3 linked regions of the Homo sapiens genome follow. The protein of the gene in region 2 interacts with the protein of the main gene of each other region in a biochemical or structural test. Each region holds a gene or a part of one and is shown on either strand. Other genes may lie near its edges. The genes, in order: SMAD4, NFIA and ELK3.

Evidence for each region.
Region 1: the proteins of NFIA (region 2) and SMAD4 form a complex in vitro, tested with the Homo sapiens proteins (one study listed by BioGRID).
Region 3: the proteins of NFIA (region 2) and ELK3 form a complex in vitro, tested with the Homo sapiens proteins (one study listed by BioGRID).

Annotation. Positions count from the first base shown.
Region 1 is NC_000018.10:51,054,127-51,057,881, forward strand, and holds part of SMAD4 (mothers against decapentaplegic homolog 4), read left to right. Parts: intron 1-654; coding exon 655-867; intron 868-3,755. UniProt on the Homo sapiens protein: In muscle physiology, plays a central role in the balance between atrophy and hypertrophy. When recruited by MSTN, promotes atrophy response via phosphorylated SMAD2/4.
Region 2 is NC_000001.11:61,080,790-61,084,544, forward strand, and holds the start of NFIA (nuclear factor 1 A-type), read left to right. Parts: upstream 1-1,771; 5' UTR 1,772-1,971; coding exon of another isoform or gene 1,972-2,002; coding exon 2,003-2,029; intron 2,030-3,755.
Region 3 is NC_000012.12:96,267,237-96,270,341, reverse strand, and holds the end of ELK3 (ETS domain-containing protein Elk-3), read right to left. Parts: 3' UTR 518-3,105; downstream 1-517. UniProt on the Homo sapiens protein: May be a negative regulator of transcription, but can activate transcription when coexpressed with Ras, Src or Mos. Forms a ternary complex with the serum response factor and the ETS and SRF motifs of the Fos serum response element.

The sequences.
Region 1 (3,755 bases), on a different chromosome or scaffold from region 2:
TTTTCTCACACCATATATTAATCAAATACTCTTATTTGGGTTGGGTTTCTAGAGGGAAATTTCAGTTTGACTTTTCATTTATAATTTTTCCGTTTGGTTCTAAACCTATAGGGGACATTACATTCAGTACACTTCATTTTTAAAGAATATGTTGCTTAACAATAATTCTAGATCCTGGGATTGGATATCTATCAGATCCCACTCATATCTCCACAGTGTGAAATTAACAAAAAGATATAGTTAAATACTCAGTCTCTATTTAGACCGAATAATTGTTTTTCTCAGCTGGACACATTTTCCAGCCATTCGGTTTTTGCCTGCCTTATGTATTTAGGTGATTATTCTTCTAGGTTTATCAAGAAACTGAGGAGTACCTTTTTAGGATTGTTGCTGGAGGCTGTTGAAACATAGACTAGCTTCAAATTTGAGAGTCAGATTGATTGATAAAATATATCTCATGCTGTTACCGCTGAATAAATGACTTTTGCTGGTAAAGTAGTATGCTTTTAAAATAATATGAAAAAATTCTGAATTAAGGTTAGTAATTTACACTGTAATTGATTTTAGGTGTTATTATATTACTTGCTAATAAGATTTTTTTTTCTGGGAATAGAAGCTTATAAAAATTTAAAATATGTTTAATTTTCTATATAGCTCCATCAAGTATGATGGTGAAGGATGAATATGTGCATGACTTTGAGGGACAGCCATCGTTGTCCACTGAAGGACATTCAATTCAAACCATCCAGCATCCACCAAGTAATCGTGCATCGACAGAGACATACAGCACCCCAGCTCTGTTAGCCCCATCTGAGTCTAATGCTACCAGCACTGCCAACTTTCCCAACATTCCTGTGGCTTCCACAAGTGAGTTCTAGAATCAGATGTAGTCAGCAAGTTGAGTTTTCCTAATCATTGCTTATTTATGTGTAGTCACTTGGGGGGAAACTCCAAGTAAGTAAACATTAAAAGTAACTGTAGTATCTTTCATAGGTAAACAGGTATTAAACAGGTATGCACAATCACTTGGAATTTAAGTAATGGCTTTGATTATAATATTGATTTAAATTAATGATCTGATTTATACTTTACTATTACATGTAGCAGTAAGTAGCCTCTTAAGCTCCCAGATATATTTTGGAGAAATATTTAAATAATTAACAAGTAGTTTTGATCCAAGATGTTTATGAAGGTCTGTGTTAATGGAATTGCAACCTTTCTTTTAATGCGGTGTTCTTATTTTGGTTTTTCTGGGACAATATTACCTTATAGTAGTTGTCTGATTTTCTCACTGTGCAAAGGGATCTTGACAAATTTGTTATATATTGCTCAAGATAGACATTAATTAAGTCAATTTTGATATAAGCTAACTTCTATATCTCTTTTTAAAATATATGTGTAATTAAAAAAAAAAAGTGTTTCAGAAAGATCCTTCTTTTCTGCCATGTCATAGGAGGGAGAGGGGCTGCTAGGTTCAGGTTTTTGGGGGCATGATCATATGACCTGGTTCTGTTACTTATTTTCACAGTAACCAAAGGTTTGATAGTTTGCTGCTTGGCAAATGAAGTAGCTTTTTTTTCATTTTTTTTTTTTCAATTAATCATAGAGCATTGTCTTGGCATGTGTATGGTGTTAGTTGCATGCAGTTGCTAAAGGAATTTATGTAAACCCACATCAGAATAGATTTTTGACAGCTCTGGGCTAATACTGTGTTAGTTGCTACCGAAAGTACCATTATTGTATTTGCTTTACTATCAGATTAGATTCAACATAGAAATTTTGATCTTTGGAATAAATGGGGGACTGATTTCTGTAATTGTGAGTTTTCAAGTGAAGTATACCAGAATTTCCCCTTTAATTCATTACACCACTTCAAAGCAACATGTTTTTGGTTTGCTATCTAAGAGATGACAGTCTCACTATAGGCAGCATATTCTAAATGGGTCATATAGGTTAAGCACTTGAGAACCCAGTTCCTTAATCACTTGGTGCTTCTATTATCTGTCTACTTTTTATTTACCAAATTAGGAATATGGTTGACAAACAGTGGGTAGTGATAGAAAATAAAAGAAGGTACATTATAGCCACTTGAACGTAGATTAGTGCTAGAGCACAGCTACCTACTTCTGTTTATATTATCTGGAGATTGAATTTCTGTGCCTTTGTCAATGCTTACTAAAGTGACTTCATTTTGACTGTGTTGTTTCCTGAGGTTGAATCCTATTCAAAGATTAGAAAAAGTGATAGAAATGAAATGCAGCTAATTTTATCCTGGTATTTATTGGGTAGATTTTAATAATCGAATACCGTAAATACTGTAAGTTTTAGAACTTGTGTCAAAATGTTCCCTTATGTGGTGGCATGCGCCTGTAGTCCCAGCTGCTCCGGGGGCTGAGGCAGGAGAAATGGCGTGAACCCGGGAGGCGGAGCTTGCAGTGAGCAGAGAGCGAGTCACTGCACTCCAGCCTGGGCGACACAGCGAGACTCCATCTCCAAAAAAAAAAAAAAAAAAAAAAAAGAGGGTTCCCTTAGGTCTCAAAAAGTATATTGATGAAAAGAAGTTGAACTAAAATAGAAGATTTGAAAGGCTATTTTACGTGAGCTGATTTAGTCGTATTGTTTAACTTTATTTTACATACTTAGAATTGTATAAGGGAAGTATTCAGTATGGATAACTACAGTGAGTCACTTTACAATTTATGTTCTTTTGACACCTGAATATTTTAAGAATTTCCTTTTAAATACCTGTAAATTAAAATAATTTATCCTGTGTAGTTAATGACAATTTTTGTAAGTTAGCTAAGAGTATTGCCTGTAGAATTGTTAAAAATATGAACAAAACCATAATTAACCTTTAAAGATAACTTGCAGAATCTGGGGGATGAGTAGGAAGGGAGGTTGCTAAAATGTCATTTTTACAGATAAATAATTTGGGGAGTATTGAAATATTCTCTTTAGCTTTTGGTTTTGTAATTCTTAGCTTTAAGGAAATGTGATATGTAAAGAAAAGAAAAATATTCCTTTTCTTTGATACTTTGAGCAATGGTGACATGTTACTCTCTTCCATCTGATTATACTCCCATTTAGAAAAGAATGAGGTGATGCCAGTTATAAATAATTATAACTTTAGTGCTTTCCAAATAGGATTAACAGTCGAGTTAATTAATGCTCTTTAAGAAACCAAATTTCCACTTTAAAAAAAAAGCCTTAAAAATGTAGGACAGTAAGCAATATCATAGGATGGTTTTTGAATAGAATACAAGCCAAGAGAAGCTTGATTCTCTTGGTATATTACATACAGAGAGGGCAATTAATTTCTTGTACATCTGGGAATATGATGGTGTTCTTGAAAAGAAATGATTCTTGGTTTATAAAAGCTCTTGAAAAAATTTGAAAGTAGACTGATAGTTTTTTTGTTTGTTTTTAACCAGTAAATGGTATATTGATTGGACAGCAGAGCTAGATCTTTTTAACTTCCTCATCTTCACTATCACATCCTATTTAAAATAATTTTCTGCTCTGCTTTTCTCTGTCAAACCCTAGCATTCTGCCATTACTAGTATCAGTGCTGATAGTGATTAATTTTTCAGTTTTCAACATTTTCTTGAGCCTGGATTTTTGGGGTCCTAATCAGAAAGGTCCAGAGAGAGAGGTGGATGGAGTGGCCAGGATGAACTGACATACCTCTGAAGAAGTTAATATGATAGGCCAGACGTACAGTGGTGTTTTGCTGGCATTTGAAATATGTTTGTGAA
Region 2 (3,755 bases):
TTCTTGAGCATTCGGGAATTATTTTGGCAATAAAGTAACTAAAGTACAAGCATAAAATAACTTTAGACAGATGCAGAATTATTTCAGAGGTTCTCTTTTGCTCTTTCTCCAGTACAGTATTTCCTGCCCCTTGCTTTGAAAAGAAGTCTGAATGAGAGTGGCCTTAACACATCACTCACCCTCACTTGTTAACACATCACTTACCCTCACTTTCCTACAGGAATGTCCCCTCTTTAGAGACTCTCTGGTTATGTCACCTCCACCGAAGGGCAGATTCCCCTGTGTGCCAGTGTCTTTCAACATGATACCTACCTCTTTCCTTTTGGAATTTTGAGAAGGGTTGTCAAATGCAGCATTTTGCAAACCATCATGAGGAAGAGAAGTAAAATAAGGGATGGGGGCTTAGAAGAGGCAGGTAGGCTTTCCCCCCTCCGAGAGAGGAGAGCCTAGAGAGAAAATATGAGGTTAAAAAAAAAAAACTGGAAAAGCAGGCTTACTGGCAACTTGCCAAACCCTAAAAACCACCCCCCTCTTTTCTGCCAAAACAATACTTTAGCAAACCTAAAATAATTGCAGGAAGCTCTTTTCCATTTTAAGAACTATTACCTGGGGGAGGGAAAAAAGGGATTCTTAAAAGGCACCCTTCCAGAGGTGTCCCAGAAACTGGGACGGTAATGATAGCCTATGTCCAGTTCTGGGCACGCGTTTGTGGATCAGAATATCTCCCTTCCCTAAGGGGACATCCCTTTCACATATTTTTTTCCTCCTAAAAAGTAAAAGATGTCACAGCTAAACCACTGTTGTTTCTGAACGTGATAGAACTTTTTCTATGGCGTCTGTGTTCAAACCCACTAGTTTCACAGTCCTGGGAGGGATAACGCTCATTAATCTCCGCCTTCTTTTCTCCAGACCCCCGCCCCCCAAATCCGGTGAATCTTCTGTGGGCACTGATTCCTCACCACCCCCGCTTCTGAATGCCACAGGACCGAAGCTGCACAAAGTTTGCAGGATTGTGTGCATAATTACCTCTGCCGACGAATCTATTCCCACAGAAAGCTTCGCTGGAGAGATTACAATGCTTTGAGCCTTACCGCATTTCAGTGGGGGAAAAAAAGTTACCTAGGAGGTCTGATTTTTCAAAGAAATTTGCATACATGCAAATGTGCCGCCCGGCCTCCTCCTCGGTTCTCTACGTGCCCACGCGGTGGCCCGGGGGGTGCGGGGCAACCTGGCAAAGTTGCCCAAGTCCTCCACCGAGGTCCGCGGAGGTCTGCAGCGGGGGTGGGGGGATGGGGACGAGGAAAAGTAGTTTTGTTTGCTTAAGCACATCCTGTGGCAGCCTATAGCTGCCCGGGAGTACAGACTGTAACTGCTCCTCACTGCGTTACCCAGTAATGCGCTGATCGGGGGAGGGGGCGGGGGGGCCGGGGAGCGAGCGGGAGAGCGAGCAAGCGAGCGAGCAAGGAGCGAGCCACGGAGAGAGCCGGGGAGCGAGCGAGCCAGCCTGCGAGCGCGAGCGGCCGCGGAGGCTCGGGACCCGGCTGGCCGCGCGGCGCCGCAGCCGCCCCCTCCCCCACACCCCCTCCCCCCCGCGGCGGCGGCGCGAGCGGGCGGCGGCTGTGCGGTGCGGTGCAGAGCGGAGGCGGAGGCGGGCGCGCGGGCAGCTCGCGGGCACCCGGCCGGGCCGGCGCGGGAGCGGGAAAGGGTGCGCTATGCCTTTAACACCCGCGTACAGTAGGCATGTATAGTGGAGTGTAGGGAAACTCTAGGCGGGGTTAAAGTTCAGCTCATGGAGCGGCAATAGCGCTGGCTGGCTGGCTGCAGTTGAGCCGACTTGGAAATGTGAACGCAAGAAGCAGGCTTGATTTTTTTTTCTCCCCCCTTCTCTCTCTCTCTCTCTCTCTCTCTTCCTCTCTCCCTCTTTCTCCTCTCTCACCCACACTCACGCACACCTCCAAACCGCACACCCAGACGCACACGCATACCCCAGCGCCCGGCAGTTATGTATTCTCCGCTCTGTCTCACCCAGGTAAGCCGCGGCGTGGATGCGGAGGGCTTGGGGGCCGGGGCGCCGGGGGCAGGGCTGGGGCTGGGTGGGGGGCACCGGGGCCGTCGCTCCGGCCGGGCCCAGGGCGTGCGTCTCGGTGTGTGTCTGTGTCTGCGCGTGTTTCTGTGTGTGTGCGCGCGTGTGCCCGCGGGTGGGGGGGGGGATCCCGCTTAAAGAAAGTAACTTTGTTTCCATGCGGGTGCATTCCTCTTGCACGGCCATTTGTGTGGGCACATGGCTAATGGCGCCCTCTTATTAATGCGTTAATTAATATCGGGGCGACGGACTGCGGAACAGCAGTGTTTTCGGACACCCCGCACGTGTTTCGGCGGGGTTGCAGTCCATGACACGCAGAAATCTGGCTCAGCGTTTCTGCTGCCGGGAGCAGGGATTCCGTAGTGCCGCAGCGCCCGGGGAGGGGGCCGCCGACGGAGCCCACCGCTCACCCCGCACGCTCGGGCCGGCTGCAGTCCTCGGGTGCGGGGAGACCTCGGGTGCCTGCGCCCAACGGCCCGCTCCCCGCAGCCTGCGCTGCCGCAGCCCCCCGCCGTCTTCCCGAACTCTTACTTTTGTTTATTGTTTGTCAGCCTTCGGGGTCCGGCCGCGGAAAGGACGCGGGCTCCCGTCCCGGCCCCGGCCCGGACAGCGCCCCTCGGACGCGGGCAGGCTGCGGCTAGCCCTCGGCTGAGCGGGGCTACGTGGACGCGCGTTCCCCCGCGCCGGCCGGGTGGAGCCTGCGTCCTCGCCGCGCGCCGGTGGCCCGTTGGCTCTCCCGGAGTGAAAGTTTCGGGGCCGAGACGAGCCCACGTTGTGCAGGGCGCCGAACGCCGGAGGCCGCGGGCCGCGGGCCGGGTAGCGCCGGGCAGAGTTGGGCTCCTAGCCGGGAGCCGGAGCGGCGGCCCGGGCCGGACACGGCTCCCCCCGCCGCCGCCGCCGCCACCACCACCACCGCCACCGCGCGACTCCGGCCGCTCCGCGCGCAGGACGGGGGCAACTTTTCCCCTCCGACTCAACTCAGAGCATGGGGCTCTTGCGCCCCACCGCCTCTCCTTTCCGTGCCCCCCTGTCCATTCCTCCCTTGTCTACCCACCCCCAGGCAAAATATTGCTACTTCGAGACTTCAAATCCGGTCCCCTTTGAATATGTTATTTGTTTTCCTTGACTAAAAGGCTTGAAGTCAAAGTGGTTTTGCGCTATTTTTTTTTTAAGCGTGAGATTTCATACTGCTTTGGTACATTAGGATCTGACCATTAATCACCTACATGAAGTTATATGCTTCACATAAAATGTTTATTCACCTCTCCCTTAAAAAACCTACCACTTCTTGCCTTCATTTAGTAGGAGATAACGGTTTAACCGGAATAGTTTCTGGAAGGCTAAAAAGTATCAGTAGTTTTCGCTCTCCTCTCTAGATTCTGGATTTATTTCCCACATGACATCCCTTCTTATTGCAATATCTAACAGTAATAATACCGGGTATTTGATCTCAGAAGACTCTTAAACGCATCTTTTATGTTGAAATGGTCTGTTTGGGATTTAGGCCTAGCATTAATAATGGATAGCAGTTACTTTTAGTTACTGTAAAAGTTTTTTTTTTTTTTCCTAACAAACTTCCAAAGTTCCTATTTTAGTAACTTGTGGAAGTATGGAATGAAACTTTTCCAACCACTTCTGGCAAGGTTCACAATTGCATATGGATAAGATGCAA
Region 3 (3,105 bases), on a different chromosome or scaffold from region 2:
TGTGTTGTTTAGGGACTGCATTAATCTGCTTTCTCCCTGCATCCCCTCCCCTCCCCTCACACCAGTCTCCCTATATCAAACCCTGAGTGGAGACTGCTTTGAATCACCCATGAAAACCAGAGCCAGGTCAGCCTGGTATTGAGACCAAGAGAAATAATAACCTTTATCACCAAGCCTAGCAGTTCACATTCCCCTGAATCAACAAAATGGCTAAAAGAATAAATGGTAGATTTGATTTTCCCCTACCTTCTCACTTCCTCCTCCTCCTCAATACAGAGCAGTTGATAGAACTTAAATAAGATCAGGGGTCTGCTTTTCAATCCATTCCATTCTCCCACAAGTCAGCCTCAATAATTACATTTATTTCTTAAAATATGTGTATGTAAAGCACTTTTTTTTTGGATGTGCTGTCTTTAAGGGTAGGTGACAAGACTCATTTTCCAACTTGTATCCATATGGAAAAGTGGTTTGGGTCACCCCAAGCAAATGGAAGTAAGCCAATCCAGTTACCTCTAAACACCTTTTATCACAAAGTTTTTATTGAACAAAAATAATATGACAGTAAAAATGATACATAAAGTGAAGATTTGCAGTCATAGAAAAGATGTGTACAAAGAGACCAACATTCAGGTTATATAGTTCTATAAAACTTTTCCCATAGCAGTTTAACACTGATTAAGCAGACATAAAAGGGAAAAGAAAGTCATTAATGTTCTTTGAAACCTATTTTCTGAGTAAAATACCTCTGCTAACACACACATGCACACACACACAGAATGAGGCAGAGCTATATGAGTGAGTTATTCTTCAGTTCCTCCAGTTCTCTGTTTGTGTTACAGGAGTATTTTCATCCATCAAAAAATTGTAGTATTTTTGCATTTCTAATAAATGGATCTAGAGCATACATTAATCCCAGTTTCCAAAGGAAAAGAAAGAATCAGATCTATAGTCATTTAAATATTTCCAATCAGCATTTACGTAAACAAGTATACTAAAAATAGTAGTTTTGGTTGAGATTTTTGCACATTAACTTCCTTTAGTTTGTAAGAATCATGCATTTTGGATGTGTTCTCTTATCTGACAACACAGTTTTAAATGCTGTCTTTATCTGTTTTGTTTGTTTTACTAATAACACGTAGTTTTGAACCAGTAATTACTTAACAGCTAGGCATGGGGGAGACAGAATTGGACTGAGCACCAATCATTGTTCTACCTTCAGTGAGCTGTGCAGCCATAGGCAACTCCCAGCTTCTGCTGTGCACCTGTCTTGAGCTGGAAACAGGTGGCGGGAAGCATTCTCAAAGGCCCCTTCTAGCACTAACTTTGTATGTTCAGTAAATATCAGTTCCCTGGACCAGCTCCTTTTATTCTGGTACAGAATTATTCTTAGCCTATGGGGTGGGGGTGGGGGGACAGTAGTGTCTATTATTTGTGAATTTTGGAACCAGTGTCATTACTTTACAGTCAAGGAGGCATGTTAGAGTGTTTGGATTTTTATCCCTTGATAAGGGCCCACATCCCCACATACAGAGATGCTCAATTCCAATTGAAAAACCTCAGAATTTCTAAGTGTCAAAGCAATAGTCTAGATTTTTTTCTGAAAATTCAAGAAATGTGTTTTCTCAAATCTCTTTTTTTATCCTTTCTCATAATCCTGCCACTTAATGCCCAGTTTGGATCAGTTATTTAGTCACATTTCAAGTTAGTTTTTATCATCACTTATAGTTAAGGATTGTAATTAATCTTGAATTTAAAGCTTGGTGCTTTTCAGTTTTCTTGTATTAGAACTTTCCTTCTTCATGTACAGGTGTGGTACCTTTGGACTGGTGCCTGCTGATTTTCTGATGGAACAGAAAATATGTCTGTATTATCACTGCTCCAAATTACATTACACAACAGAATTTACTGGAGTGTTCCAAGTTATCATCAGTTCAGTTCCACGATGATGAGGTTCCTGTAGAATTTTTCATCTGTCAGATTTCCTTCATTCTCCCCTAACTTTAGTAATACATAAAGCAGTGTATCCTCTCTCAGTTTCCACAAGCAAGGCCTTTAGTACCTCCACTCTCTATTTGTATTACAGCAAGTTTTTGATCCATCAAAAATTGTGAACACCTACCTATACTGATGAAGATACCTAGTGTTAAAAATGGTTTCTTTGTTGTTTGGGTTCATCACCACTCTGTGAGCTTCTTCTAAAGCATTAGATTTTTTAAATGTTAATTATAGTTCCAGGGGAACCCCAACTTACTTATACTGACACAGTAAATATATCAGATGGTCGGGATTCCCTATGGAAAACTGAGAAAACCAGGGCTAATTTTTTGAAATAAGAATATGCTAACCTAGGAGATATTCTTGGGCCTGGAATAGCATGAACTTGATGTAGCTTTTCCATCTCAGATTTTTGTCTGGGAGGCATCTAAAAGATAAGATACTGTAAACAGCTAAGGAGGCTAGCCTTTCAAGGTCCATTCTTTTGAAAATGTACTTTAGAACATTTTCTTTTATCAATGTTTATTGTCTAAATATGGCTTAGTTTATTATAAAAACATTACTTGGACATTTACTGAATTTCAGTTCAAAAGAGGTTCTAAGGCAATTCTTATACAATTGAAAGTAAAACAAAACGTGATATATGCTTTCATATTGCCCACTGGTGAAAAATAATGAAATTCTACTAGAGAGCTGTTTGATACTAATTTTCATCTTTCAAACATTTCCTCTTAATACTAAAAAATATATAAATCATTCATTTACATTAAATGCGAAGGAAGGCACAACTGGTTATAGTCTATATAAGCACACAGTTTAGCATACTCAGAACTAAAGAGAAAAAAGCTTCACATCCTTATTAGTTATACTGAAAACCATTAAGAAAAGTTCTTCACTGTCAACAGTGTTCAACACTTAAGAGCTAAAAGGATATAAAAACAAAAACATTAAAATTCACTTAATGCCAAACAGATTTTCATATATACTTGAATATATCAAAAACAGTTTTTAAAATGCTAACATAAATCTAGACTATCCATGTTATGAAAAGTGCAAACCAAATTAACAAGAGTTTCACAATGTCCTTCTCACGACACAGGTAAACTAGCC